Homo sapiens: one gene and its partners. The protein of the gene in region 1 interacts with the protein of each later gene in a pairwise test. Each region holds a gene or a part of one and is shown on either strand. Other genes may lie near its edges.

Evidence for each region.
Region 2: the proteins of UBQLN4 (region 1) and STAM2 interact in a two-hybrid assay, tested with the Homo sapiens proteins (one large-scale study listed by BioGRID and IntAct).
Region 3: the proteins of UBQLN4 (region 1) and RBM10 interact in a two-hybrid assay, tested with the Homo sapiens proteins (one large-scale study listed by BioGRID and IntAct).
Region 4: the proteins of UBQLN4 (region 1) and DTX2 interact in a two-hybrid assay, tested with the Homo sapiens proteins (one large-scale study listed by BioGRID and IntAct).
Region 5: the proteins of UBQLN4 (region 1) and CCDC33 interact in a two-hybrid assay, tested with the Homo sapiens proteins (one large-scale study listed by BioGRID and IntAct).
Region 6: the proteins of UBQLN4 (region 1) and TRIM32 interact in binary tests that used the Homo sapiens proteins (3 or more experiments, as listed by UniProt).
Region 7: the proteins of UBQLN4 (region 1) and GKAP1 interact in a two-hybrid assay, tested with the Homo sapiens proteins (one large-scale study listed by BioGRID and IntAct).

What each region holds. Positions count from the first base shown.
Region 1 is NC_000001.11:156,050,999-156,055,293, forward strand, and holds the start of UBQLN4 (ubiquilin-4), read right to left. Parts: upstream 2,801-4,295; 5' UTR 2,704-2,800; coding exon 2,596-2,703; intron 860-2,595; coding exon 708-859; intron 330-707; coding exon 112-329; intron 1-111. Other genes in the region: ragulator complex protein LAMTOR2, read left to right, coding at 3,892-3,959, 4,265-4,295. UniProt on the Homo sapiens protein: Regulator of protein degradation that mediates the proteasomal targeting of misfolded, mislocalized or accumulated proteins.
Region 2 is NC_000002.12:152,144,764-152,148,263, forward strand, and holds part of STAM2 (signal transducing adapter molecule 2), read right to left. Parts: coding exon 3,462-3,500; intron 3,360-3,461; coding exon 3,261-3,359; intron 2,546-3,260; coding exon 2,399-2,545; intron 195-2,398; coding exon 125-194; intron 1-124.
Region 3 is NC_000023.11:47,183,221-47,187,313, forward strand, and holds the end of RBM10 (RNA-binding protein 10), read left to right. Parts: intron 1-1,834; coding exon 1,835-1,984; intron 1,985-2,081; coding exon 2,082-2,147; intron 2,148-2,221; coding exon 2,222-2,410; intron 2,411-2,495; coding exon 2,496-2,570; intron 2,571-2,844; coding exon 2,845-2,951; intron 2,952-3,037; coding exon 3,038-3,167; intron 3,168-3,253; coding exon 3,254-3,379; 3' UTR 3,380-3,593; downstream 3,594-4,093. UniProt on the Homo sapiens protein: Binds to ssRNA containing the consensus sequence 5'-AGGUAA-3'. May be involved in post-transcriptional processing, most probably in mRNA splicing. Binds to RNA homopolymers, with a preference for poly(G) and poly(U) and little for poly(A).
Region 4 is NC_000007.14:76,468,209-76,471,708, reverse strand, and holds part of DTX2 (probable E3 ubiquitin-protein ligase DTX2), read right to left. Parts: intron 1,690-3,500; exon of another isoform or gene 1-1,689. UniProt on the Homo sapiens protein: Regulator of Notch signaling, a signaling pathway involved in cell-cell communications that regulates a broad spectrum of cell-fate determinations.
Region 5 is NC_000015.10:74,274,326-74,277,825, forward strand, and holds part of CCDC33 (coiled-coil domain-containing protein 33), read left to right. Parts: intron 1-3,500.
Region 6 is NC_000009.12:116,697,305-116,699,551, forward strand, and holds part of TRIM32 (E3 ubiquitin-protein ligase TRIM32), read left to right. Parts: intron 1-68; exon of another isoform or gene 69-129; intron 130-357; 5' UTR 358-438; coding exon 439-2,247. UniProt on the Homo sapiens protein: E3 ubiquitin ligase that plays a role in various biological processes including neural stem cell differentiation, innate immunity, inflammatory resonse and autophagy.
Region 7 is NC_000009.12:83,741,848-83,744,769, reverse strand, and holds part of GKAP1 (G kinase-anchoring protein 1), read left to right. Parts: intron 1-2,169; coding exon 2,170-2,240; intron 2,241-2,740; coding exon 2,741-2,818; intron 2,819-2,922. UniProt on the Homo sapiens protein: Regulates insulin-dependent IRS1 tyrosine phosphorylation in adipocytes by modulating the availability of IRS1 to IR tyrosine kinase. Its association with IRS1 is required for insulin-induced translocation of SLC2A4 to the cell membrane.

The DNA of each region.
Region 1 (4,295 bases):
GTCCCCTATCCCCATCAGACCAGGAGCAGGAACTCCTGTTTCTCCCTCCTCTTGGCTTTCCCCAACTCCCCAACCCCAAACAAGATTGTGCTCTCCTCTCTGAGGGCTTACAGAGTATGGACGCAGTAGCACTGGGGGATCCCTCCCCAGCCCCCGGAGAGGGCCCCCCACCACTGCTCCTCCGGCTTCCACTGCCAGCATCTGAAGAGGCACTGCCAGAGGTGGAGGGCTGGGCAGGGGTGGCGGGTGAAGCAGGCGTGGTGGAGGGTGCTGAGGCAGGGTCAGGTGTGGAGGGGGAAGAAGCAGTGGCAGCAGCTGGATCTTGAGCCCTGAGGACAGAGAAAGGAGAATCCTGTTGGAGTGAGCACTAGAAGAGGGAAGGTACCGTGACAATCTCTGTGCTTGCTATGGGACAACTATTTTAACCCAAGACCCCTCCTGAGCAGTCCTGAGGCTGGAGTGGGGTGATGGCGGGAGGGCAGTCAGTAAACCAGCAGAGGGAGAAAGGAGCTAGTATTATCTGTCTTCAGGGCATTCTGGGAATGGTAAATCAGGTTCCCTTCCCCTAGAGATGAGATCATATTCATCCAGGAGCTACCTGCCTGGGCCTCAGCTTAGGCCCTCTGGGTACAGTTAAGCAATGAGTGAGAAAGTATCAGATGGGGAGGCCCAATCAGAAGCTGGATCTGCTCTGCTCCTGAACTTACTTCTGAGGGGTCTTGATGACCAGATGGACAGTGAGCCCGTCCTTGATTCCGTGCTGGTTCAGTGTGTCCCCATCCTTGAGGATCTTGCCTGCGAAGATCAGGACCAGCTGATCCTGCTGAGCCTTAAACCTCCGGGAGATTTCCTCTTTGAACTGTGATCAAGAGGCAGAGGTCACTGTGGAGGCTGCCTGGACTCCCCCTACCAGGGACCCTGACTCTTTTTCAACACCTTCTGCACTCTCTTGCTCTCATCTCTAGTCATGGGAAGTCCTTTCTGTAGTCTCGACGCCATTCCTCCAGCTGCAATAAGCATCTCCTTTCTTAACAAAGGAGATGAACCAGTGAGAGGCTCTTCTCTCAGCTCCATCCCAGAGTCTCCCACCCTAGAAAGCCCCTGCTGCTATCTGCCTCCCAGCTTCAGTCCCTCCACCTAGTTCTCTGTAAGGCAGAGCAGCCTCCCATCCCAACTCCTTCAACAGCTTTGGACCTTCAGCCTTCTGAGACCCAATTTTCTCTCCTCTCTATTCCCAGTATTCTCTTAACAACTACAACAAATAGATGCCAGTTATTGAGCACTACCTATTCACCAGTTAAAGATATAGTATATTGTTATTTTCATTTTATTATTATTTTTATCTTGAGATGGAGTCTCGCTCTGTAGCCCAGGCTGGAGTGCAGAGGTGCGATCTTGGCTCACTGTAACCTCCATCTTCCGGGTTCAAGTGATTCTCCTGCTTCAGCCTCCCGAGTGTCTGGGACTACAGGCACACACCACCATGCCTGGCTAATTGTATTTTTAGTAGAGACGGGGTTTCACCATGTTGGCCAGGCTGGTCTTGAACTCGTGACCTCAGGTGATCCACCAGACTCAGACTCCCAAAGTGCTGGGATTACAGGTGTGAGCCACCACGCCCAGCCGTATCTCCATTTTAAAGATGAGAAAACTGAGGATCAGCGAGGTAAGGTAACTTGCCCCAGGCAGACCAGAACTCAGGTCTTGACACCAAAGTCCAGGCTCTTAACTAAACACACTGCCTCTCAATGAGAGCCGTTTTCAAATTCAGCTTTGTAGGGAACATACAGTATTTAAATTCTGAAATTTAGTAATTCTATGTGGTTAGGGAGGGAGCAAGGATGGAGTTAGACTTCCCAAATTCTACCAGCCCCTCCAAAACACAACACAAAACAAAACACAACACACACTTTAAGTAAAAACAGTGCACTTGTTAAGCAGAGGCTGCTTCCAGATCCCTCTCTTCCAACCAGATGGCCTATCTTAAGCCCCGCCTATGTGAAATTATGGAGCGGCCACAGGGGGTGGCGAACACAGGCAACAGTCCGTCATTCAACAAGATTTTATTGAGCACCTACTGCACACCGTGTAAATCTCAGAAGAGCTGAGAACCAAATGTAACCACGTCGATTTGAAAGAGTGGGAAGGATCTGGGCACAGGGAAATCCTCCCCCGACAGCCCCGTCGCTCAGAGAACACTGGGCGTTCTCTGAGGCACAGAGTAGGCGCCGGCGCTCTCCGCCTGCCCCCGGCCCGTTCTCTCAGTTAGCACCTAGCCCGGGCCCCCACTCCGGCACACTCCCCTCAAACCCAGGGTCCTTCCCCCTTCCCGGTGCAAGGTGTCCCCTCCTCACTCTCCACCACGCCCCCAGGCCACAAGGCAAAACCCGCCCCTCAACACGCGCCACGCTCCCCCAGATCTCCCCTCGCAGGGCGCCCCCTACCCGCCTCTCCTTGCCTTCAGCTCCTCGGAGTCCCAGCCGGCCCCCGCCCTCCTCTCCGGGGCCCTCCGGGACGCCGGACCGTCAGAGAGGCCCCCCATCTCTTCGCAGACCCCTCCTCCGCGCTCCCCCCGCCCCCCGCCTGCTGTACTACCTCCTTGACCGAGGCTCGATCGCAGATCACAATTTCCTCCTTGTCCTTGGGGGTCTTGACGGTGACCCGAATGGGGGGCCTCGTCTCGGCCCCGCTCGGCTCCGCCATGCCGCCGCCGCCACCCGGCCGCCCGCCAGCCCGCCCGGCTCCTCCTCCTCCCCGCCCGCCCGGCCGGCCCGGCTCGGCTTCTGCGCCTCCAACACTCCCCTCTCTCCACCTCTCCCCTCCCCTCCCCTCCCCTCCTCTCTCCTCCCCTCCCCTCCCCGAGGCTTCACCGCCCCCTCCGGACCAGCCGCAGCCACAGCGCCCCGGGCGGACCGGGGGGGCCACTGCAGCGGGGTCCGCCCAGGGCCAAGCCCCAGGTCCGGAGCCCGGCCAGGGTCTCGCCAGGCGGGGGCCCCTGGGGGGCCTCTGGGAGGGGGAAGGGGCGTGCCCTTCATTGCGGGGGCGAGGGCGGACTGCCCCGGGAGACCGCGACCCAACGCTGCCCGCCCGAGCCGTGCCGCGGTCCCCTCCAGCCCAAAGCCTCCCCGCCCCCTCCGCGGCTAACTCGGCTCCGGGACAAAGGACTTTCTGTGTCGCCGCTTTATCTCCGTTCCCTGTGATAACTTGGTCTTTCTTGGAAGCCCAAGTCCCTTCCAGGCCAGGGGACTTTCCCGACTTGGAGGTTGGGTTTTCCCACCAAGCACGTCCACCTAGGTTCTCAGCTCTGGGACTGACCCTATAGCCCCGAGGGTCGCGGCCTGAATGGTCTATTAAGAACGGTTCCAGGGAGCTGGGTTTTGGCTGCGTGGCCTTTCAGAGCCTTGGTTTCCTCAAGATAATAATAATAGTACCTCTCGCCTCATCGCACAGAATTGTGCATAACGGAGAAAACTGTTTTGAAAGTAACCAAAGGCGTGCCTGACAAATATGAGGATGTAGTATAATTATTGAATCGTGGACTGCCAAGCGGACACGTTGATTCCTTTCTCCCCGAAGGGGTTAAATGTCCTTCCAGCGCTGCTGCTGTCCTTTCACTCCCGTTCTTTTCCGCCCCCCAACAACCGCGTGGTCGGCTTGGAAAGGCGAACTATAATTCCCAGGGTGCCTCGCGAGGCCACAAAGAACTACGATTCCCAGAGCCCCCCGCGGTGGGGCGGGGTTGAGTCGGAACCACAATAGCCAGGCGAAGAAACTACAACTCCCAGGGCGTCCCGGAGCAGGCCAACGGGACTACGGGAAGCAGCGGGCAGCGGCCCGCGGGAGGCACCTCGGAGATCTGGGTGCAAAAGCCCAGGGTTAGGAACCGTAGGCATGCTGCGCCCCAAGGCTTTGACCCAGGTGCTAAGCCAAGCCAACACTGGAGGCGTCCAGAGCACCCTGTGAGTGCAGACCACGGACCCGAGCGGCGAGCGCTGCAGTGGGGCGGCGCGCGGCTCCCTGAGGGAGGGGTGGGGAAGGATCACCAGGAAGGGAGGAAGCGGCAGAGGGGGCAGCGGCTGGGGATACCGGCCGGGAGGTCCCCTGTCGAAAAGGGAAGCCGGTGTGCTGGGTGCTTAGGGCATGTTCCGGGACACGCTCAGGCCAGAGCCTTGCTGGATGTGCCCTTGGTGGGACTTGGGATGGAAACCCAGACGTTTTACTCCCCGCTCTGAGCACATCGCTATCCCTCCCCGCCCCTCACCAGGCTGCTGAATAACGAGGGATCACTGCTGGCC
Region 2 (3,500 bases), on another chromosome or scaffold:
CTTGACCTCATGATCTGCCCACTTCGGCCTCCCAAAGTGCTGGGATTACAGGCGTGAGCCACCGCGCCCAGCCCTGGCAAAGATATTTTAAGCAACACTAAATTACATGTGCTTGATCATTTACCTTTAGCTATGTCTTCATCCTCTTTGTTTTTGTTCGATGACGTACCATTCTTGGCAGCAGCTGAGACAGTCTGTAAATGTATGAGTAAAATGAACACAACTATCTTTTCAAACAAAACACAAGCTCCATAATTACTTGCAGATGGTAAATTTTAAAAAATACTGATATAACTGAGTTTCATTTAAAAGTGAAGTTCTTTTTTGAGACAGGGTCTCATTCTGTCAGCCAGGTTGCAGTGCATGGCACAGTCATAGCTCACTGTAACCTCCAACTCCTGGGCTCAAGTGATCCTCTTGCCTCAGCCTCCTGGGAAGCCGGAACTAGAGGTGTATGCATCCACAACCGGCTAATTTTTATTTTTTGTAGAGACAGGGTCTCACTATGTTTCCTGGGCTGATCTGCAACTCTTAGCCTCAAGTGATTCTCCTGTCTCAGCCTACCAAAGTGCTAAGATTACAGGCATGAGCCACCATCACTGGTCTAAAAGTGAAGTTCTTTATAATAATTTTAAATAATTGTTTTCAAATACTAAAATAAAACATCAGATTTTTCAAGAAAACATTATAAACTCACACAGGGATCAAACTGGCTTAGATTTTGCATAAATGTAACACAGAACTTGGCATACAGAAAGTACTTAAATATTAATAGAATTTAAAAAAGACTCTTTTCTGATTGTATTCCCGATCTCAATTGTCCAAGGTCTCTTAGTGAGAGGAGCTCTGCTATAGGAGTACAGCTACACGAGGAGTGCCAGCAAGAAGTCATGATCATCACTGAAGAGAGAGGAATGGGGACAGAGACAAGAGGTGCAGTTCTAGGAATATGTGTGAAGTCCTTTTACTAGTTATTGTGGCTGGGTGGCAGTGGTCTGCCAGACATAGCAGAGAAGTAAGGAAGGTCATGCTTGAATTTAATAAACAGCATGTAAGACAGGTATCCAGGACTGATCCATCAACCGGTTCTTTACATAGATTTTTCAGAAAAATATGCAGAAAGGACAGAACAGGAAAATGTTTCCTTTTTATTACTTATAAGACTCTTATCTCAAAACGTTACCTTGTACCCTTAGGTCTGGTCAGCTATAAAGAATCTTTTTTCGGCCAGCGTGGTGGCTCATGCCTGTAATCCCAGCACTTTGAGAGGTCGAGGCAGGTGGATCACCTGAGGTCAGAAGTTTGAGACCAGCCTGGTCAACATGGTGAAACCCCGTCTCTACTAAAAATACAAAAAATTAGCCGGGCATGGTGGTAGGCACCTGCAATCCCAGCTACTCTAAAGGCGGAGGCAGGAGAATTGCTTAAACCCGGGAGACAGAGATTGCAGTGAGCTGAGGTTGTGCCACTGCACTCCAGCCTGGGCAACAAGAGCAAAACTCCATCTCAAAAAAAAAAAAAAAAAAATCTTTTTTTCTCTTTAATCTATGATTTAAAATAAAAGAAAATATAGTACTTCTCATCGTCTCTTTCCCTAGCCCATATCTTAATATTAATGGGAAGGAATAAGGTACTGAGAGCAAAACCCAAGGAATAGTATTTTTCTCCCCTAGACCTAAAAAAACCAGCCCACTCCATGAGTCAACATCCCTGCCTCCACACCCCAGTTCTACTAAAGCTATCCCTTCTCCCAGCAAATAAATTTCTAGTCTTACATTTCCATCCATCTTGTATGTGAAGCATTCACTCTAGGCATATTCACTCTTGAACAAACAAGTCTTGAGCCTCTCAATTCCATGAATTTGTTCATTTCACTTACCTCCTGATATGACTTCTTCACTTCTCTCTAACAAAATATTAATACATTCAAGTCTCAAAATTCTACCTCTTTACCTTCTTCACCATTCCAATCTGTAGTCACCTCTTTCTCTCTTTGGTATTAAGATAGACAGTATGCAGTCTATTCCCCTCATCCTGTATTTGTCACTTACAATCTAAATTAGTTATTTTTCACATGTATAAAGCTATCATTCAAATTTGCTACAAATTTCTTGAATATAAGGGGTATGTCATATACCTATGCCTTTTGCATGACTGTAGACTTAGAGGAACATTAAATACACTATGTCTGATTAACTTCACAAGGTTCTGATATGTGGAAGAAATACACATAAAAACTAGAATGTCTACTAAACGTAAGGAAGGCACTATGCTAGAGAGTCATTTGGGAAGTAAAGGTGGAAAATGATAATCTAGACATACCTTGCCTAGTCTTTACATAACATACATACCTTCAAAATATTATAGGGTCAACCATGGGTCTGAATAAATCTCTCACCTGAGAACCTGCTGGAGGAAAAGTAATTCCTTCTTCTTTCATAGATTTAATAGTTGCAGATATCAGACTAAACTGAGGGTCCTTCTGAAATTCTTCTGACCACTCCACCATTAAAGATTTCAGTTTTTCACATACTTTAGGATGTGCCTTTTAAGGAAAAGGAAAGGAAAATAAACAAAAATCTACGGTTAAAATAAGTACTTAAATTATTTAACAAGGAGAATTACCATCAAAATTCTCTTTAATTATATGAACATCAACAAAAGTCCTGAAATTTCTAGCCTAGTTGAGTAATTGATAGATGCCTATTTACATGTTGTGATATAGTTGTTTCATACAAAATGACTGTTTTTAACACCAATTCCTAAGTCTTACTATAATGACAACAGATCTTTTATATTCAGAGATTATTTCCTCCATGTTTCGGAGAATGGAGCCAGAGAAACCTGGATGTAAATCATGGCTATTCCAGTTACCAGCTGCATGACCTTGGACAAGTTACTTCTAAGTCTCAGTTTTTGCATTTATAAAATAAGAATGATAAGGGAATCTAACTTCCAAGAATCTAATGCTCCAAGGGTAGTTAAGAGCATTCAACAAGACAGTATATGTAAAATGCTTAAAGTAATGACTACTTACTAGCCCTCAAAAAGGATTTGCTATTATTTACAGTATATATACTTTGGGGAGAATAGTTTTTGGTGCTACACATTAAAAAATCAAATTTCAGAACAGTTTATTTCATTTCAATGATCTAAAAATGACTTCATTTATAATACTTTAGTAATGCCACATATAGTTATAATGACACACAATCTACATTTTTTTAATGACTTAAAGTTCTTCTGTTTTTAAAATTTACCTTATTTTTAATCACAGCACGTACTTCTGTTGCAAAATCACGGGAACATACTTCTAAATGAAATATCTTTCCACAGTTTGCCACACAAGCCCCAAGAAGCTATTAATTGAAATAAAAATATATGAATATTGAAATATTAACTTACTGTAATTAAAAACACATTTAAAATTTGCGTCAAATAATAACATGCCTTGTACTCACAGTTAGTGCTTGCAGAGCAACATGTGGAACCTTATGATT
Region 3 (4,093 bases), on another chromosome or scaffold:
ACTCAAAAGGTGGAGGGGGGCCGGGAGCCGTGGCTCATGCCTGTAATCCCAGCAGTTTGGGAGGCTGGGGTGGGCAGATCACCTGAGGTCAGGAGTTTGAGACCAGCCTGGCCAACATGGCGAAACCCCGTCTCTACTAAAAATACAAAAATTAGCCAGGCGTGGTGGCAGGCGCCTGTAATCCCGGCTACTCAGGAAGCTGAGGCAGGAGAATCACTTGAACCCAGGAGGCGGAGGTTGCAGTGAGCTGAGATCGTGCCATTGCACTCCAGCCTGGGCAACAAGAACGAGACTCCTTCTCAAAATATATATATATTATATATATATAAAGGTGGAGGAGATGGGAGGGGGTGAAGGATGAAAAATTACTTAATGGGTATGATGTACATTATTTGGCTGATGGATGCTCTAAGAACCCTGACTTCAGCACTATACAATCTGTGCATGTAACAAAAGCACTTGTTTATTTTATTTATTTATTTATTATTTTTTTGAGATGGAGTTTCGCTCTTATCATCCAGGCTGGAGTGCAGTGGTGCAATCTCGGATCACTGCAGCCTCCACCTCCTGGGTTCAAGCAATTCTCCTCCCTCAGCCTCCCGAGTAGCTGGGATTACAGGCATCCGCCACCATGCCCAGCTAATTTTTTTGTAATTTTAGTAGAGACGGGTTTTCGCCATGTTGGCCAGGCTGGTCTCAAACTCCTGACCTCAGGTGATGTGTCTGTCTCGGCCTCCCAAAGTGCTGGGATTATAGGCATGAGCTACCGCGCCTGGCTACAAAAGCACTTGTTACCCCATAAACTTATACAATTTCTTTAAAAAGCAGCCGCGATCTCTTGAGGAGGGCAGAGCCTTTGTGACCTAATCACCTCTGAAAGGCCCTGCCTGTCAACACTGTTGCATCAGGGATTAAATTTATCTTTTGAGATGGAGTTTCACTCTTGTTGCCTGGGCTGGAGTGCAATGGTGCAATCTCAGCACACTGCAGCCTCCGCCTCCCGGGTTCAAGGAATTCTCCTGCCTCAGCCTTCCAAGTAGCTGGGATTACAGGCATCCACCACCACGCCCAGCTAATTTTGTATTTTTTTAGTAGAGCTGGGGTTTCACTGTGTTAGCCAGGCTGGTCTCAAACTCCTGACCTCAAGTGATCCACCCGCCTTGGCCTCCCAAAGTGCTGGGATTACAGGTGTGAGCCACTGCACTCAGCCGGGATAAAGGCTCCACCTGTGAACACTGTTGCATTAGGGATTACATTTCTGACACATGAACTTTGAGGGACAAAAAACATAGCAGAGAACACAGCCAGAGAGGGGCTTGGCAAGAAGCACTGGTGACTGGTGACAGAAAATAGGAACTTGCACTACTGTGTCCCTCACCTTCTGATTGTTCTGCCTCAGCTTCCACTCATCTGCCTCCCAGATGGGCCCGCCACTCTGTCCACACTGCTTCTGCCACCTCACCATTGCAAACCAGTGGGGGTGGGGGCACAGGGTGTGTTCAGTGATGAGGTCAGGAGTAGCCAGGTGCCAAGTGCCTTGCAGGCTGTGGTTGCGAGTTTGGGTTTATTCTTGGTGTGATGGGAGGCGAAGGAAGGGTTTTAAGGACATTGTATTTGGGGGTGGGAGTGGCTTATACTTCATGAAAGAGCGCTCTGCTGGGAAAGGTGGTCAGGAGCCGTAGCCCAGAGGCCAGATGAAGCCTTCTGCAGTGGTTCGGACTAGGGATAGTGGCTGGCCCGTGTTTGAGGATGCAGGGCAGTGGGTCAGCAGATAGAGTTAGTAGCCCCAGGGTCATGAGGGTTCTGGGAACCTCACCTCCACCCTCACCCCCAGATTGCCAAGGACATGGAACGCTGGGCCCGCAGTCTCAACAAACAAAAAGAAAACTTCAAAAATAGCTTCCAGCCTATCAGCTCCCTGCGAGATGACGAGAGGCGGGAGTCAGCCACTGCAGATGCTGGCTATGCCATCCTCGAGAAGAAGGTGTGTTGGGGCCACCCCCCTGCACCCTGCCCCACAATCTTGTCCTTCCTTTGGGCCCTCTGTGGAGTCCCTGAATTTCTGTGTCCCTCCACCCCAGGGAGCACTAGCCGAGAGACAGCACACCAGCATGGATCTCCCGAAATTGGCCAGTGACGACCGCCCAGTGAGTGCCCAAGGCAGAGAGGGGCGGGGGCTCTGATCTGGCCAGGCCTGACCGCCCACCCTCACCCTCTACAGAGCCCTCCGCGAGGACTGGTGGCAGCCTACAGCGGGGAGAGTGACAGTGAGGAGGAGCAGGAGCGTGGGGGCCCTGAGCGGGAGGAGAAGCTCACCGACTGGCAGAAGCTGGCCTGTCTGCTCTGCCGACGCCAGTTCCCCAGCAAAGAGGCGCTCATCCGGCACCAGCAGCTCTCAGGGCTCCACAAGGTAACAGCGGATGGTTGGCAGGGCATGCTGGGGCCTGGCCCACTGAGGCTCATCCTCTTCACTTCTCATCCTGTCCCTCTTGCAGCAAAACCTTGAGATTCACCGGCGAGCCCACTTGTCAGAAAACGAGCTAGAAGCACTAGAGAAGAATGACATGGAGGTGAGGTGTGACCTGACCCTGGGCTCCCTCCCCTGTGTCCCTTCCAAGTCCCCATCACCTCAGGCAGCTGGAGTTCAATTTCTCACGTGTTAACCCCGTGAGCCTTCTTCCCCATTTTCCTATCCTGGCTGCTTGTGCCTGTGATGGCCTGACCCTCAGGACCTGAGCCTCATTAGCCAGATGGCATGCCCTGTGGGACCCCACTCCCCATGCCTGTGTTGCCTGAGAAAAGAGACCAGCTCCCCAACATTCACATACACATACAAACTTTCAGCAAATGAAGTACCGGGACCGTGCAGCTGAACGCAGAGAAAAGTATGGCATCCCCGAGCCGCCAGAGCCCAAGAGGAGGAAGTACGGCGGCATATCCACAGCCTCTGTGTGAGTGGCTGGGCCAGGTGAGGGGGTCTGGAGCCCGGGGCCGGGGCCGGCAGGCCGACCACTCATGCTGTGCACCGCCCCTGCAGAGACTTCGAGCAGCCTACTCGGGACGGGCTGGGCAGTGACAACATTGGCAGTCGGATGCTGCAGGCCATGGGCTGGAAAGAGGGCAGCGGCCTGGGCCGCAAGAAGCAGGGCATTGTAACGCCTATCGAGGTGAGTCTCAGGCAGTCCTGTCCCATCCCCCAGCACCCCTCACAGCATCCCCCACCAGCCTGACAGAGCCTGCCTCCCTCACACAGGCCCAAACACGGGTGCGGGGCTCCGGCCTGGGTGCACGGGGCAGCTCCTACGGGGTCACCTCAACCGAGTCCTACAAGGAGACACTGCACAAGACAATGGTGACCCGCTTCAACGAGGCCCAGTGAGCAGCTTCAAGAGCAACTTCTCCACATGTTGGGTGTCCATCCTGGGGCAGGGAAGGACAGAGTGTTGGATGGCTGGGACGGGGCCTTGCTCTTGTCGGCCAGCCCACTCCCCAGCCAGAGAGGGCTTGACCAAATCAAATTGAGGTGGTGACTTTTGTTGGAAAATTGGGCTGGGATCACGTCCTGTTTTGTAATAAAAGCTGAAAAGTCTGCATGTTGGCCTCTCCTCTTTCTCGTGCTCTAGCACAGTTGTATAGCCTATACAGACACGGGGACCCAAGCAGATGGACAGGGGACCTTATCAGGCCAAGGTGGATGGCAGTGGTGGCATTCAGTGTCTGGAACATAATGGCTACTAGAACATGGGGTTCTGACCTGTACCCCGACCCATAATATCCTGGTTATGGCCCCTCTCCCTTGTTGGTTCCAGCAGGTTATGTTGTACCAGGAAATCTAGCACCACCAGGCATGAAGCGCCCCCTGATCAGAGCTAGGACTGGGAACCCCCATCCCCTGTCCTTGCTGCCCCCTGGCTTTACTTAGCCTGCAGTCCCAAGGCTAAACTGCATTTTGCCATCCCTAGATCTGGAGACAATGCCCTCAGGCATCTCCAAGTAGAATACAAGAGGTACTCAGGTTCCAGTTGGCCCAGAGCCCTCAACAGGCTGATGACAGAGGGGTGGAGGTGGAGCTTGGCCTGCAAATCCAAGGCCA
Region 4 (3,500 bases), on another chromosome or scaffold:
AACAGTAATAGCAGGCCTGGTGCAGTGGCTCACACCTTGTGATCCCAGCACTTTGACTGGCTGAGGCAGAAGGACTGCTTTGAGCCCAGGGGTTCAAAGTTGCAGTGAGCTATGATCGTGCCACTACACTCCAACCTGGGCAACAGAGCGAGACCCTGTCTCTTTAAAAAAAAATAAATAACAGCCAAGCAGGAACCCGCATCCAGGAACACAGCCCTTTGCTCCTCCCTCAGAATGAATGGAAACCAGGCTGGGCGCGGTGGCTCACACCTGTAATCCCAGCACTTTGGGAGGCCAAGGCGGGCGGATCACGAGGTCAGGAGATCGAGACCATCGTGGCTAACATGGTGAAACCCTGTCTCTACTAAAAATACAAAAAATTAGCCGGGCGCGGTGGCGGGTGCCTGTAGTCCCGGCTACTAGGGAGGCTGAGGCAGGAGAATGGCGTGAACCCAGGAAGTGGAGTTTGCAGTGAGCCAAGATCGCGCCACTGCACTCCAGCCTGGGCGACAGAGCAAGACTCCGTCTCAAAAAAAAAAAAAAAAAAAAAAAGAACGAATGGAAACCAGAAATCAGATATTTATGCCCAAGCAAAGCAGGATTTCGTTCAGCACTACTCCCAGATCGTTAGGGTGCTGACTGAGGATGAGATGGGGCACCCAGAGACAGGAGATGCTACTGCCCGGCTCAAGGAGGTCCTGGAGTACAATGCCATTGGAGGCAAGTATCACCGAGGTTTGATGGTGCTAGTAGCGTTCCGGGAGCTGGTGGAGCCGAGGAAACTGGATGCTGATAGTCTCCAGTGGGCACCGACTGTGGGCTGGTATGCGCAACTGCTGCAAGCTTTCTTCCTGGTGGCAGATGACATTATGGATTCATCCCTTACCTGCCAGGGACAGATCTCCTGGTATCAGAAGCTGGGCATGGGTTTGGATGCCATCAATGATGCTATCCTTCTGGAAGCATGTATCTACTGCCTGCTGAAGCTGTATTGCCGGGAGCAGCCCTATTACCTGAACCTGATGGAGCTCTTCCAGCAGAATTCTTATCAGACTGAGATTGGGCAGACCCTCGACCTCATCACAACCCCCCAGGGCAATGTGGATCTTCGCAGATGCACCGAAAAAAGGCACAAATCTGTTGTCAAGTACAAGACAGCTTTCTACTCCTTCTACCTTCCTGTAGCTGCAGCCATGTACATGTCAAGAATGGATGACAAGAAGGAGCACACCAGTGCCAAGAAGATCCTGCTGGAGATTCAAGAGTTCTTTCAGATTCAGGATGATTACCTTGACTTCTCTGGGGACCCCAGTGTGACTGGCAGAGTTGGCAATGACTTCCAGGACAACAAATGCAGCTGGCTGGTGGTTCAGTGTCTGCTACAGGCCACTCCAGAACAGTACCAGATCCTGAAGGAAAATTACAGGCAGAAGGAGGCCGAGAAGGTGGCCCGGGTGAAGGCACTATACGAGGAGCTGGATCTGCCAGCCGTGTTCTTGCAGTATGAGAAAGACAGTTACAGCCACGTTATGGGTCTCATCGAATAGTACGCAGAGCCCCTGCCCCCAGCCATCTTTCTGGGGCTTGTGCACAAAATCTACAAGTGGAAAAAGTGACCTAGAGACTGCAAGGGCGGGGAGAGAAGGCTCTCAATAAGTAAATTATTGTGTAAAATAAATAAATAAATGAATAACAGCAATGGCTACCAGGTAAAGGTTTACCAGGCACCAGGCACCGTGCTAAGCCCCTCCACCTGACTAGTAATTCTCGTTGGTCCTCACAACTGGGGAAGCGGGATATTTCCATACCACAACTGAGAAAAGTGAGTCACCAGAAGACATGCAGCTTGCCCAAGGATATCCAGGGACTGAGAAAACCCAAATCTGTTTCCAGAGTTCCTGTCTTTCCCACCAAGACAGACTGACGACGGACAAACTGGCCTGTAGATGTGTTTTGCTTGGGTTACTAAGGTTTGGCTTTTAAAAACTGAGCTGATGTTTAAAAATTGGAATATTTGGCCGGGCTCAGTGGCTCACACCTGTAATCCCAGCACTTTGGGAGGCCGAGGCAGGCAGATCATGAGGTCAGGAGAGCGAGACCATCCTGGCTAATGCAGTGAAACCCTGTCTCTACTAAAAAATACAAAAAATTAGCCAAGTGTGGTGGCGAGCGCCTGTAGTCCCAGTTACTCGGGAGGCTGAGGCAGGAGAATTGCTTGAACCTAAGAAGTGGAGGTTGCAGTGAGCCAAGATTATGCCACTGCACTCCAGCTTGGGCGACAGAATGAGAATCCGTCTCAAAAAAAAAAAAAAAAGGAATATTCACAGTAAAAAAAAAAAAAAAAAAAATCTAGATTTCAAGCTTCCCTTGAAAATCAGGAAAGATGGCAATATTTGCAGGCTGGACCTAGATCCATGATCTACCTAGCAACACCAGCTAAACTGCAATGGTGGCTGGAACGTCCTCTCTGGGTGGCCACAGCTACCATGACTCCCTATGGCTAGGGCCAGCATGCTTTTCCTGTAAAGGACAGAAAAAGTCTTTGCAGTGACTCTGCCACTAGACCACAAGAACAACCATAAACAATGTGTAAACAGGAGGGGTTGCATACCAATATAACTTTATGAACAAAATCAGGCAGTGGGGCTGAATGCGGTAGCTCACGCCTGTAATCCCAGCACTTCGGGAGGCTGAGGTGGGTGGATCATTTGAGGCCAGGAGTTTGAGACCAGCCTGGCCAATACAGTGAAACCCCGTATCTACCAAAAAAATACAAAGATGAGCCAGGCGTAGTGGCGTGCACCTGTAGTCCCAGCTACTTGGGAGGCTGGGGCAGGAGAATCACTTGAACCCAGGAGGCGGAGGCTGCAGTGAGCCGAGACTGTGCCACTGTACTCCAGCCTGGGCAACAGAGTTAGACCCTGCCTCAAAAAAAAAAAAAAAAAAAAAATGCTGGGCGTGGTGGCTCACGCCTATAATCCCAGCACTTTGGGAGGCCAAGCGGGGGTGGATCACCTGAGGTCAGGAGTTCGAGACCAGCCTGGCCAACATGGTGAAACCTTGTCTCTACTAAAAATACAAAAATTAGCCAGGCATGGTGGCTGGTGCCTGTAATCCCAGCTACTCAGGAGGCTGAGGCAGGAGAATTTCTTGAACCTGGGAGGCGGAGGCTGCAGTGAGCTGAGATCGTGCCATTGCACTCCAGCCTGGCAACAGAGTGAGACTCCATCTCAAAAAAAAAAAAAAAAAAAAAAAAAAAATGGCAGTGGGCCAGATTTGGCTGAGGGTCCATCGTTTGCAGACCTCTGCCCTGTGGCCTCCCTCACATCTATTACTGTACTTTCACACTCCTACAGTTGAGCAATACTTCTCTGAACTCATGTCTCTATCAAAAAGTGAGAGAGTGCTCTGCCTCTGGCTAGCTTTGCCAACAACACGCCCTGCCCTCTGCAGACATGTCAGCCTTTGCCCAACACCTAAGGGTGAAATACAGCATCCAA
Region 5 (3,500 bases), on another chromosome or scaffold:
TCATGATCTGCGCTTCACTGCCAGCTTGCCCTACACGATGGTCCCAACATTCCTAGGGGCCTTGGGGGACAGAGGGATTTTTGGAGGTCCCTCCTATTGTCTGCCCACCAGTGCTTATGTCTGGCATAGCAAAAATAGAACAAGACACCCCTTTGGAGCCCAGGCTTCATTTAAAGGCAAAGACATTTGAAGAAGGCTCAGACATGGGGTAGAGTGATGGTGGTGGGGAGGAGTGGGACAAAGGGGGACCCTGGGGACAGAGGCTTCAAACCCAAACCAATCCTTTGCCTGATTTCCCTAGAGTTACCTCACACATGGCCCTGCATTTGCCCAGAAAATTAAGAACCAATCAGCAGGCTGTCCCAAGGGGCAAGAGGCACTGCCTGCTTTAATGAGTGTGCCCCCTCCCACCCCCAGGCTTTCTCTGGCTGCCTTTGCTGCCTAACTAGTCTGGGTAGGAGAGGTGCCACTCACTACAGAGACTTGTTCCCAGTGCCTTTTGCATGTGTGGGACCCGGTCCAGCAATGGCAGGACACCTGTTGAACATCACCCAACCCCATGGCAGCTGGGCCAGGTTGGGAATTTGCTGGCAGCTGGCACAGAGGTGCCCAGGTGCAGCAGTGAGAGAACAGGAGCAGGCTGCTGTGGTAAGGAGGGGTGGGGATTGCCCGGGCAGAGCCATACCTGGAGGGGCACCAGTCAGCAGCGTGAGCTCAGTCTTCACACAGACCCCTGCCCTGTTCCCTTTGAGCGTCAGTCCCCTCATCTCTACACTTGAGGGGGTGGGATTGGACTTGGTAATTTTAGGGCCTGCCCTCTCTGACATCTTGGGGGGCTGTGATTTCTCACCAACTGTCACTGTGCAAAAGCACTGTTTGACCTGGGTTTGACCCCAGCTCTGTAACTTACTGGCTGCATGACCTTTGGTAAGCTGCTCCTTTCTCCAGACTCATTGATTCCAATCTGTTAGGAGAACTCAAAGGATAATCTTTGCAAAGTGTCCAGGCCCAGGGTCCAAGGTAAATGGGTTCCACTCTTAACAGAGCTGTACCTCCCCTAGTGCCAGTGTCCCCTCTGAGGCCAGCCTCACCACTGCCCTTTTCACATCTGGCTCCAAGTAACAGAAACCCCAACTTGGATCGGCTTAAATACTAAGGATATTTATTGTCACACACCACATCAACTCACGACATAGAATGCTGCCAGAATTGGTGGATGCTCAGGCTCAGAAGCATCCTCGAGGTCTCAGGATCTTTCCAACACCCCGAATTACCATCTTCAGCTGGCTAACGGCTCATGGGGGCACTTCATCCAAATAGAATGAAAGACCAGCAGATAAGAGGCAGCCTCTCTTTTTTTTTTTGCGACCAAGTCTCTGTCCCCCAGGCTGGAGTGCAGTGGCGCAATCCTGGCTCACACTGCAACCTCTGCCTCCTGGGTTCAAGCAATTCTCCTGCCTCAGCCTCCCGAGTATCTGGGATTACAGGCGAGCGCCACCATGCCCAGCTAATTTTGTATATTTAGTAGAGATAGGGTTCAACCATGTTAACCAGGCTGATCTTGAACTCCCGACCTCTGGCGATACGCCCACCTTGGCCTCCCAAAGTGCTGGAATTACAGGCCTGAGGCACCGCACCCAGCAGCACCCTCTCTTCTTGTAGGTGGTTTTAAAGAGCAACTGGAAACCAACCTTACCCAGCCATCCCTCAGCAGACCTCCTTCCTGTCTGATTAGCCAGGATTGGGTTACATGCACTTCCCTGAGCCAATCACTAAGGAGGGGTGTGGCTCTGCCTTGCTGGTATAAATGTGGAAGGTTATGGAGGCGGAGCCACCCGAACCCAAGGGCCATCTGCTGGTGATGAGGCAAGGAGGGGCATGGTGGTGGGCTAGGTGGCCCTCAGTGGAGCCTGGTGATGATGGCAAAGGCTGAACTGGTGAGTTAAGGGGTAGATGGCCTGTCGGACTTCACCTGGTCCAGCCTGCTGGAACCAACATAGGGTGGGCCGTGTAAGTTACTCCTACCCCGGCACCTTGGAAGGGGCCCATTGCCCAACAGGCTGCTCCTGTTGTTCTGGTCTCCTACAGAGCTGGAGTGGAGCTCCGGGAAGCCATGTGTGCCCACCACCATCCCCTCCTCTCTCAGCCCCACAGCTGGCCTGTCCCCAAGCTCTCCTGGGGCCCCTTCCATCCCCACAGACCCTGCCCTAGTGCTAGCCTCCCCTCAGGCCCCTGCCATCCATTCTCTGAGGAGCAGCCAGGGCATCCCCTGCCTAGCCCTTCCCCTGGGCCCCCTGTTACTATCACGACAAGGCAAATCCCACTCTCAGCCAGGTCCACAGGCCCTGTGCCCTCCAGCCTCCTGGCTTATGGCTCCAGCTCATACAGGCATTCTGCAGCCCCACTGGACAGCTTGCTGTTCTCCACACCCACACTGCCCCTTCCCACCTCCAGCCTCCACCTCTGCTGCACTCGCAGTCTGGAATGGCCTTCCTCTTCCTTACCTACTGCCCTTGTCCTTCAGGTCCTCCCTGAGGAATGGGGTCAGAAGTCATGGCTTTCTCCTCGCACACCCCAGCTCCCACAACCACAGCTTGCTTAGGACTCTACATGTTTGTGTGTGTGTGTCTGTCTGTCTGTCTGTCTGTCTGTCCCCTATCCTCCTGGATGATGGTGGGCTACAGGGTCGGGGGCAGAGTCTGGCTCTACAGCACCCCACAGGCATCTGGAATGGAGAAGCCCCCCAGAGTCAACATTTGCTGAGTTCAGTGAAGTTGAACTTACATCTTAATAGCAAAACATCCATTGTCTCCTTTAACCTTACAACAGGCTTTCAAAGTGAGGAGTTTGAGGCATATCCCCATGGGATGATGGGAAAAGTAGGTCCCAAAGAGGAGAAGGGACTTGAAGGCCACACAGCAAGGTTGAGGCAGACCCAGACCCAGAGCCAAGGGGTCCTAGATCCCTAGAGACCCCAGCCCAGCATCTGCTCCCAGCAGCTACTCCTCCAGATGGCGGCCACTATGCCTGGGCAGAGCAGGCAGAGGTGGATGTGGGTGGGCCCAGGGGAAATAAGGCGGTGGGCGTGGAGGGGCCATGGAATGAAGGCTCTGTCCCCAGGGGAAGCAGGTCTGCCTCCATGGCTGGGGGTTAATGGCTTTTCTGAAGATCACAGCTGAGGGTTAATGACATTCCATAATTCCACTACCGCTGTGGCCCTTCCATTAGCATCTGCAGGCGATGCCTGCCTCTCCCCGCCCCCATCCTGCACACACATCAGCCACAGTACCCTCACCAGGGCTCTGGCGTCAGACTGCAGGTCTTCTAACTTTGAGTTCCCACCACTCCTGCCTGCACATGCACAAGACAGGCTGACCCTCCCTCCCCAGTCCTAGGTCTGAAGTGATCTTTCCTAAGTGACTTGCCCTGGGAAACTACTCAGGGAAAGGGCTGTTCCTTATTGGGCCGGCAGCCACTCACCACCTCTGGCTTCATAGGCT
Region 6 (2,247 bases), on another chromosome or scaffold:
TTTATCTTGTTACTTAGCCCTTATAATAACCATATAAGGCAGACACCATTATTACTTCTATTTTACAGATGAGTGATGGGGAAAGAGCTTTTGGAAGTTTGAGTTAATTCCTTATGGTCATGCAGCTAAGTAAGTGTCTGAGACTACAGAATCTGAATTATTTCCCACTATGCAGTGTTTTGTCTGGTTTGTTTCCCTATCTGTCACCCTCACGTGACATATAATAGACCTCAATAAAATAGTTGTTAAGTAAGGGAATGACTGAATGACTGGTCATAGCTATTCTCTAAATGTTTCTTGAGTGAATTTATTTATATAGTCAGAGGAAAATGAATAATGGTTTCTTTTTCTCTTTAGCAGGAATTTGACCCTCTAGGGCATGAATACTGTGCTGTTCAGTTCTGAGCTGTGCTAGCAATACCCTTCAAAGGAAGAGCAATGGCTGCAGCAGCAGCTTCTCACCTGAACCTGGATGCCCTCCGGGAAGTGCTAGAATGCCCCATCTGCATGGAGTCCTTCACAGAAGAGCAGCTGCGTCCCAAGCTTCTGCACTGTGGCCATACCATCTGCCGCCAGTGCCTGGAGAAGCTATTGGCCAGTAGCATCAATGGTGTCCGCTGTCCCTTTTGCAGCAAGATTACCCGCATAACCAGCTTGACCCAGCTGACAGACAATCTGACAGTGCTAAAGATCATTGATACAGCTGGGCTCAGCGAGGCTGTGGGGCTGCTCATGTGTCGGTCCTGTGGGCGGCGTCTGCCCCGGCAATTCTGCCGGAGCTGTGGTTTGGTGTTATGTGAGCCCTGCCGGGAGGCAGACCATCAGCCTCCTGGCCACTGTACACTCCCTGTCAAAGAAGCAGCTGAGGAGCGGCGTCGGGACTTTGGAGAGAAGTTAACTCGTCTGCGGGAACTTATGGGGGAGCTGCAGCGGCGGAAGGCAGCCTTGGAAGGTGTCTCCAAGGACCTTCAGGCAAGGTATAAAGCAGTTCTCCAGGAGTATGGGCATGAGGAGCGCAGGGTCCAGGATGAGCTGGCTCGCTCTCGGAAGTTCTTCACAGGCTCTTTGGCTGAAGTTGAGAAGTCCAATAGTCAAGTGGTAGAGGAGCAGAGTTACCTGCTTAACATTGCAGAGGTGCAGGCTGTGTCTCGCTGTGACTACTTCCTGGCCAAGATCAAGCAGGCAGATGTAGCACTACTGGAGGAGACAGCTGATGAGGAGGAGCCAGAGCTCACTGCCAGCTTGCCTCGGGAGCTCACCCTGCAAGATGTGGAGCTCCTTAAGGTAGGTCATGTTGGCCCCCTCCAAATTGGACAAGCTGTTAAGAAGCCCCGGACAGTTAACGTGGAAGATTCCTGGGCCATGGAGGCCACAGCGTCTGCTGCCTCTACCTCTGTTACTTTTAGAGAGATGGACATGAGCCCGGAGGAAGTGGTTGCCAGCCCTAGGGCCTCACCTGCTAAACAGCGGGGTCCTGAGGCAGCCTCCAATATCCAGCAGTGCCTCTTTCTCAAGAAGATGGGGGCCAAAGGCAGCACTCCAGGAATGTTCAATCTTCCAGTCAGTCTCTACGTGACCAGTCAAGGTGAAGTACTAGTCGCTGACCGTGGTAACTATCGTATACAAGTCTTTACCCGCAAAGGCTTTTTGAAGGAAATCCGCCGCAGCCCCAGTGGCATTGATAGCTTTGTGCTAAGCTTCCTTGGGGCAGATCTACCCAACCTCACTCCTCTCTCAGTGGCAATGAACTGCCAGGGGCTGATTGGTGTGACTGACAGCTATGATAACTCCCTCAAGGTATATACCTTGGATGGCCACTGCGTGGCCTGTCACAGGAGCCAGCTGAGCAAACCATGGGGTATCACAGCCTTGCCATCTGGCCAGTTTGTAGTAACCGATGTGGAAGGTGGAAAGCTTTGGTGTTTCACAGTTGATCGAGGATCAGGGGTGGTCAAATACAGCTGCCTATGTAGTGCTGTGCGGCCCAAATTTGTCACCTGTGATGCTGAGGGCACCGTCTACTTCACCCAGGGCTTAGGCCTCAATCTGGAGAATCGGCAGAATGAGCACCACCTGGAGGGTGGCTTTTCCATTGGCTCTGTAGGCCCTGATGGGCAGCTGGGTCGCCAGATTAGCCACTTCTTCTCGGAGAATGAGGATTTCCGCTGCATTGCTGGCATGTGTGTGGATGCTCGTGGTGATCTCATCGTGGCTGACAGTAGTCGCAAGGAAATTCTCCATTTTCCT
Region 7 (2,922 bases), on another chromosome or scaffold:
TTTCTTTATAAATTACCCATTCTCAGGCAGTTCTTTATAGTAGTGTGAGAATGAACTAATACACCTGTCTCAAAGAAACAAAAAATCCCCACAATACTTACGAGAAAAAGGAAGGTTAGAAGCACAGCACTTAAAATCGTTGTCAGTGACACATGAAAAAAAGATGGGAAACTAATAAAAACAGTAACGCAGTTTTACACATGTTAAAATGGTTAAATACATAAATATTACATAAATATGGCACTTTACCTTGAAGAAAACCTGAAGTTTGCTTGTGGGGAAGTAGGTCTCAGAAGGGTTATAGCTTGTGTGTTACTGCTGCATGGTGGAAGGATGGAAAGTTGTCAGACCAGATGGGTGTGTTTCCTAACACACAGTGAACCAAGGTAGCTGGTAGATATTCAAGGAGTACATGTGGGTGTGGTTTTCTCTGTTCATAAAATTGTACATAAGTGTATTGAAAATTTGTGTTATGTTCAAGTTGTTACCTAATACATCAACCTCATTGAAACAAATTTGTGTTTTCAAAACAAGCATTATAGGAGAACTGATTGTAATTGAAATATTACATAACTCTTTAAAATCACTAGTTTTCAGCAAGTGTTTATAATCCTGGGGATGGAGGAGTAGAAAGCATAATTTGTAAAAGTTCCCAGGTTGATTCTTGAGAGACTGAATTGATTCTTGATAGGGTGTTTCATCTTATCATATTAAACTATGAAAATGAATTTGAACTACAATCTTACATTGGCAGAGCTGTGGTGATATCAGTAGTCATTTTCCTCCTTTGCTAATTTTATTACAATTTTACCTCTCTAGTCTCTCCTAGTTTGTTTTCAAAGTGAGGAGTTAGTTTTTCATACATTAGCCGTTACCATGAGTTAAGGAAGTTCTCAGCCATGTGAAAATTTCTGAAGCTTAGGAAACATAGGGCCAAAGTATAGATACCTCGCTTCTCCCAAGAGAGAGAAGCCTCTAGAAAAAAATGAATAGTTCTAAGAGACCACACATGTCATATGATCATTTGTGATCATATGAGCTACATTTAGTTGACATTGCCTTATTGGTATGAAAATTTATTCAGAGAAATATAATTTTGTTGGCATTATGGTATGCTCACCACCCCCAACAATTCAACAAAAAAAGCACTCTGCATTGTTTTTATTTATTTATTTTGAGACGAATCTCACTCTGTCACCCAGGCTGGAGTCCAGTGGCGTGAGCTTGGCTTACTGCAGCCTCCGCCTCATGGGTTGAAGTGATTCTCCTGCCTCAGCCTCCCGAGTAGCTGGGATTACAAGAATGTGCCACCATACCTGGCTAATTTTTGTGTTTTTACTAGGGACAGGATTTTGCCATGTTGGCCAGGCTGATTTTGAACCCCTGACCTCAGGTGATCTGCCTGCCTCAGCCTCCCAAAGTGCTAGGATTACAGGTGTGAGCTACCATAATTGTTTTTAAAATCATGCCTTAAGATTAGTCAAGGTATTTATAAAGTTTTTTCCATATGTGAAATTTTGTTTTCTTGTATCCTTGTCCTATTTAGAGTAGATATAAAAATTAATCTTGCACCATATTTGTGCAATTAAAAAATATGTATTTTTTTATTGACAGAGTCTCTCTCTGTCGCCCAGGCTGGAGTGCAGTGGCACCATCTTGGCTCACAGCAACCACCACCTCCCCAGTTGAAGGGATCCTTATGCCTCAGCCTTCCAAGTAGTTGGGATTACAGGCATGCGCCACCACACCTGGATAATTTTTGTATAATATTTTTTAGTAGAGACAGGGTTTTGCCATGTTGGCCAGGCTGGTCTCCAACTTCTGGCTTCAAGTGATCTGCCCACCTTGGCCTCCCAAAGTGCTGGGATTATAGGTGTGAGCCACCATGCCCAGCAATAAATATTTTAACACCACAGAAAATGTAAAATTTCTAAGAAAAAAATGCTGTGCTGATGATGATCAGAATTTACTGGTGAAAATGTAAAACAAACAAACAAAAAAGAATTTACCAGTGAAAAGTAAGAGCTATGCAAGGTCAAGAAGTAGATTCTTTAAGTATGACAAGAAATCATTGTTCTAATTGCACTGCTATGTCTTAGTTCCCTGAAGTATTGTTGAAGTATTTGGGTGACTGGAAAATCTATACTGCTGTTTTTCCTTTTTTGTCAGTGAAAGATAAGGCAGAAATACTTCTGCAAGTTGATGAATCACAAAGTATCAAGAATGAGCTCACTATTCAGGTAAGGAACTGTGGAGCATACATGACTGGTTTTCTTAAGCTGTCTTTAGTCTTGAATTATTAAACTTAACAAATACAGCTCATCAACACTGTAAGGATGTAGTATAAATTATACTTTATTATTATGTAATAGCCCATGAATGAAGATTCTGTTTACAGCACTAAAAGAGGTAGGTATGTCCTTCCCCCTGAAGAATAGGGGATGATAAGGCTGTATTTTAATGAACCATGAATTTAGAGACAGAAAGGGCCAATAGAACTTAACCCTGTATCTGGGCTTGATTTTTCTCCCCTTCACATCCTTATTGTCTTCTTCTCTCAGGACAGTTTGCCCCATCTTTAACATAGAGCTGTGTACAATACCAAATGGAAATTATGGGGGGAGCTTCTCTGTTACTCATCCATTTAGCTGTCAAAAACCTATCATTGTGAATATGTTAAGAATTGAGTATTTGCCAAAAACCCCAAAAATTCTTTTTCTTATTGAATATTTGGTTATAGGTGACTTCACTTCATGCTGCATTAGAACAAGAAAGATCTAAAGTGAAAGTATTACAAGCAGAGTTAGCCAAATACCAGGTATGCTTTTATAATTTATAAGTGTTTTTATCACAAATAATACATTTGGAGTAGATACTGTGTGAGAATAAATGCAGTATTTTATTCTTAGGCCAAAATTTATT